Homo sapiens: one gene and its partner. The protein of the gene in region 2 purifies or fractionates together with the protein of the main gene of each other region. This does not show direct contact. Each region holds a gene or a part of one and is shown on either strand. Other genes may lie near its edges.

What was found.
Region 1: the proteins of SLC39A6 (region 2) and CCR6 purify together in Homo sapiens (co-immunoprecipitation; one large-scale study listed by IntAct). This does not show direct contact.

The regions. Positions count from the first base shown.
Region 1 is NC_000006.12:167,136,309-167,139,744, forward strand, and holds the end of CCR6 (C-C chemokine receptor type 6), read left to right. Parts: coding exon 1-1,047; 3' UTR 1,048-2,833; downstream 2,834-3,436. UniProt on the Homo sapiens protein: Receptor for the C-C type chemokine CCL20. Binds to CCL20 and subsequently transduces a signal by increasing the intracellular calcium ion levels.
Region 2 is NC_000018.10:36,107,942-36,110,259, reverse strand, and holds the end of SLC39A6 (zinc transporter ZIP6 isoform 1 precursor), read left to right. Parts: intron 1-514; coding exon 515-667; 3' UTR 668-1,729; downstream 1,730-2,318. UniProt on the Homo sapiens protein: Zinc-influx transporter which plays a role in zinc homeostasis and in the induction of epithelial-to-mesenchymal transition (EMT).

The DNA.
Region 1 (3,436 bases), on a different chromosome or scaffold from region 2:
TACTCAGTTGATTCTGAGATGTTACTGTGCTCCTTGCAGGAGGTCAGGCAGTTCTCCAGGCTATTTGTACCGATTGCCTACTCCTTGATCTGTGTCTTTGGCCTCCTGGGGAATATTCTGGTGGTGATCACCTTTGCTTTTTATAAGAAGGCCAGGTCTATGACAGACGTCTATCTCTTGAACATGGCCATTGCAGACATCCTCTTTGTTCTTACTCTCCCATTCTGGGCAGTGAGTCATGCCACCGGTGCGTGGGTTTTCAGCAATGCCACGTGCAAGTTGCTAAAAGGCATCTATGCCATCAACTTTAACTGCGGGATGCTGCTCCTGACTTGCATTAGCATGGACCGGTACATCGCCATTGTACAGGCGACTAAGTCATTCCGGCTCCGATCCAGAACACTACCGCGCAGCAAAATCATCTGCCTTGTTGTGTGGGGGCTGTCAGTCATCATCTCCAGCTCAACTTTTGTCTTCAACCAAAAATACAACACCCAAGGCAGCGATGTCTGTGAACCCAAGTACCAGACTGTCTCGGAGCCCATCAGGTGGAAGCTGCTGATGTTGGGGCTTGAGCTACTCTTTGGTTTCTTTATCCCTTTGATGTTCATGATATTTTGTTACACGTTCATTGTCAAAACCTTGGTGCAAGCTCAGAATTCTAAAAGGCACAAAGCCATCCGTGTAATCATAGCTGTGGTGCTTGTGTTTCTGGCTTGTCAGATTCCTCATAACATGGTCCTGCTTGTGACGGCTGCAAATTTGGGTAAAATGAACCGATCCTGCCAGAGCGAAAAGCTAATTGGCTATACGAAAACTGTCACAGAAGTCCTGGCTTTCCTGCACTGCTGCCTGAACCCTGTGCTCTACGCTTTTATTGGGCAGAAGTTCAGAAACTACTTTCTGAAGATCTTGAAGGACCTGTGGTGTGTGAGAAGGAAGTACAAGTCCTCAGGCTTCTCCTGTGCCGGGAGGTACTCAGAAAACATTTCTCGGCAGACCAGTGAGACCGCAGATAACGACAATGCGTCGTCCTTCACTATGTGATAGAAAGCTGAGTCTCCCTAAGGCATGTGTGAAACATACTCATAGATGTTATGCAAAAAAAAGTCTATGGCCAGGTATGCATGGAAAATGTGGGAATTAAGCAAAATCAAGCAAGCCTCTCTCCTGCGGGACTTAACGTGCTCATGGGCTGTGTGATCTCTTCAGGGTGGGGTGGTCTCTGATAGGTAGCATTTTCCAGCACTTTGCAAGGAATGTTTTGTAGCTCTAGGGTATATATCCGCCTGGCATTTCACAAAACAGCCTTTGGGAAATGCTGAATTAAAGTGAATTGTTGACAAATGTAAACATTTTCAGAAATATTCATGAAGCGGTCACAGATCACAGTGTCTTTTGGTTACAGCACAAAATGATGGCAGTGGTTTGAAAAACTAAAACAGAAAAAAAAATGGAAGCCAACACATCACTCATTTTAGGCAAATGTTTAAACATTTTTATCTATCAGAATGTTTATTGTTGCTGGTTATAAGCAGCAGGATTGGCCGGCTAGTGTTTCCTCTCATTTCCCTTTGATACAGTCAACAAGCCTGACCCTGTAAAATGGAGGTGGAAAGACAAGCTCAAGTGTTCACAACCTGGAAGTGCTTCGGGAAGAAGGGGACAATGGCAGAACAGGTGTTGGTGACAATTGTCACCAATTGGATAAAGCAGCTCAGGTTGTAGTGGGCCATTAGGAAACTGTCGGTTTGCTTTGATTTCCCTGGGAGCTGTTCTCTGTCGTGAGTGTCTCTTGTCTAAACGTCCATTAAGCTGAGAGTGCTATGAAGACAGGATCTAGAATAATCTTGCTCACAGCTGTGCTCTGAGTGCCTAGCGGAGTTCCAGCAAACAAAATGGACTCAAGAGAGATTTGATTAATGAATCGTAATGAAGTTGGGGTTTATTGTACAGTTTAAAATGTTAGATGTTTTTAATTTTTTAAATAAATGGAATACTTTTTTTTTTTTTTTAAAGAAAGCAACTTTACTGAGACAATGTAGAAAGAAGTTTTGTTCCGTTTCTTTAATGTGGTTGAAGAGCAATGTGTGGCTGAAGACTTTTGTTATGAGGAGCTGCAGATTAGCTAGGGGACAGCTGGAATTATGCTGGCTTCTGATAATTATTTTAAAGGGGTCTGAAATTTGTGATGGAATCAGATTTTAACAGCTCTCTTCAATGACATAGAAAGTTCATGGAACTCATGTTTTTAAAGGGCTATGTAAATATATGAACATTAGAAAAATAGCAACTTGTGTTACAAAAATACAAACACATGTTAGGAAGGTACTGTCATGGGCTAGGCATGGTGGCTCACACCTGTAATCCCAGCATTTTGGGAAGCTAAGATGGGTGGATCACTTGAGGTCAGGAGTTTGAGACCAGCCTGGCCAACATGGCGAAACCCCTCTCTACTAAAAATACAAAAATTTGCCAGGCGTGGTGGCGGGTGCCTGTAATCCCAGCTACTTGGGAGGCTGAGGCAAGAGAATCGCTTGAACCCAGGAGGCAGAGGTTGCAGTGAGCCGAGATCGTGCCATTGCACTCCAGCCTGGGTGACAAAGCGAGACTCCATCTCAAAAAAAAAAAAAAAAAAAAAGGAAAGAACTGTCATGTAAACATACCAACATGTTTAAACCTGACAATGGTGTTATTTGAAACTTTATATTGTTCTTGTAAGCTTTAACTATATCTCTCTTTAAAATGCAAAATAATGTCTTAAGATTCAAAGTCTGTATTTTTAAAGCATGGCTTTGGCTTTGCAAAATAAAAAATGTGTTTTGTACATGAAGTAGGAATCGTATTTCAGCTTCAAGGTTCAGATTGAGGGGCCCACTGTTTGGAGAGGATGGTATTCAGGCTTTCTCATGTCCTTCAAATCTGTTAGCGTTTGACTCTAGAAATCAAAGCAAAGGAGTGGTTACCCAGACACTTCTTTTGGTGTGATCAATGCGCTGATGTGATCTATGAAGATGATTCATGCTTGAAAACTAGCACAGAAACATCTTGCTTATTTGCCAAAGCTGGGAGATGAGCTTCTCTGCATAATTTAAATGTTCAGATAAATGAAGCTGACTTATTTAAGCAATAACCTTTTAAACATTTTAGCTAAGATGTATAAAAATGTTTCCAAAATATACCACATACTTTATTTCTTCTTAAATGTAGTACATTAGGTTACATCATTTTTCTTGCTGTCTTGGGCATCAAAACAGGTGCCATGGTAACCTGACACTCTCAGGAGACATTAAGATAGAAGGGGCTGTTCTTCAGTGGTTCCCATTGATTCTCCCCATATCTTTTTGCTCTCAGGCTCTGGCCGTCTCTTCCTGAGCCTTAACTGTGTCTGCCGTTAGTCCTCCTCTCCACTCATTGCAAACATTATTCTATATGT
Region 2 (2,318 bases):
TGCTTAGTTTATTAATCAACAAAGGAGTCATATCTTTTTGTCACTAATGTCCTCAAAACAATCCCAACCAATCTTACCGCTAAAATTGTATTTTATTATTTTATTTTTATTTTTTACTTTGTAAGCAATCAAAGACAATATGTATCTTATATAGTATAAGGTTTTCTATCTCTGAACTAAAGACAAACTACATGTTATATCCAGTTCAGATATGCAGCCAGTAACTGAAGTAGGAAAATCAATATCGCTTTTCATTTTCCAGTGGAAACTGGAACCAATACAAACTTTTTCTTGCCCAGAACATCATGAGTAATCATTGTTAAACTGCTAGGAAATGCTGTGTGACATTGTTAGCTAGAGTCAGTATGTATGTAATCATGTTTTAAGGAATTAACTCACAGTATATCTAGCTACAAATAAAGCTAGTATACTGTCCTATAAATTTTTCTAAAAACTAATCTGTAGTTCTAAAAACTTAAATGTCACTCTTATTTTCCCTTACTTTTTTTTAAAGGTACCTGAAATGCTGCACAATGATGCTAGTGACCATGGATGTAGCCGCTGGGGGTATTTCTTTTTACAGAATGCTGGGATGCTTTTGGGTTTTGGAATTATGTTACTTATTTCCATATTTGAACATAAAATCGTGTTTCGTATAAATTTCTAGTTAAGGTTTAAATGCTAGAGTAGCTTAAAAAGTTGTCATAGTTTCAGTAGGTCATAGGGAGATGAGTTTGTATGCTGTACTATGCAGCGTTTAAAGTTAGTGGGTTTTGTGATTTTTGTATTGAATATTGCTGTCTGTTACAAAGTCAGTTAAAGGTACGTTTTAATATTTAAGTTATTCTATCTTGGAGATAAAATCTGTATGTGCAATTCACCGGTATTACCAGTTTATTATGTAAACAAGAGATTTGGCATGACATGTTCTGTATGTTTCAGGGAAAAATGTCTTTAATGCTTTTTCAAGAACTAACACAGTTATTCCTATACTGGATTTTAGGTCTCTGAAGAACTGCTGGTGTTTAGGAATAAGAATGTGCATGAAGCCTAAAATACCAAGAAAGCTTATACTGAATTTAAGCAAAGAAATAAAGGAGAAAAGAGAAGAATCTGAGAATTGGGGAGGCATAGATTCTTATAAAAATCACAAAATTTGTTGTAAATTAGAGGGGAGAAATTTAGAATTAAGTATAAAAAGGCAGAATTAGTATAGAGTACATTCATTAAACATTTTTGTCAGGATTATTTCCCGTAAAAACGTAGTGAGCACTTTTCATATACTAATTTAGTTGTACATTTAACTTTGTATAATACAGAAATCTAAATATATTTAATGAATTCAAGCAATATATCACTTGACCAAGAAATTGGAATTTCAAAATGTTCGTGCGGGTATATACCAGATGAGTACAGTGAGTAGTTTTATGTATCACCAGACTGGGTTATTGCCAAGTTATATATCACCAAAAGCTGTATGACTGGATGTTCTGGTTACCTGGTTTACAAAATTATCAGAGTAGTAAAACTTTGATATATATGAGGATATTAAAACTACACTAAGTATCATTTGATTCGATTCAGAAAGTACTTTGATATCTCTCAGTGCTTCAGTGCTATCATTGTGAGCAATTGTCTTTTATATACGGTACTGTAGCCATACTAGGCCTGTCTGTGGCATTCTCTAGATGTTTCTTTTTTACACAATAAATTCCTTATATCAGCTTGACGTCAGATGTCTGGTTTTCTTTTTAAAAAAAAATTTTTTTTACCATTGGAACCATTTTTAACTGTAGAGTTCAGTAGTTTTAAGTATATTCATGTTGTGCAATGAATCTCCAGAACTTCTTCATCCTGCAACACTGAAACTCTATACCCACTCAACGCCAACTCCCCATTTTCCCTTAGCCCCTGGTAACCACCATTCTACTTTCTGTTCCTAAAAAATTGAGCTATCTGAATTTTTAAATTATCATCTGGATTGTAGTATACTAATCAATTCATTTATAATATTGTATTGGGTGGCCTTATTCAATTTTTAAATTGTTTATCACAAAGGACACTTCAAAAAATATTGGTCCACAGTTTGTTTTCGGGTGTCTCTCTTTTTTTTTTTTTTTTTAACAACTGGACCTAAAGCTGTAGAAGAAGCATTATTAATATTCTACACTCTCAAGAGAGTCAGTGTTTTAATTCAAGATTTTTACGATGGAGAGCTTGTGATGAGACTCAATGCTTGAGAGAGACTCCAGGTATTATTATTTATAGGTCCTGGGAAGTACATGGCACATCTGGAGGCCACACACATGGAGGTCAGA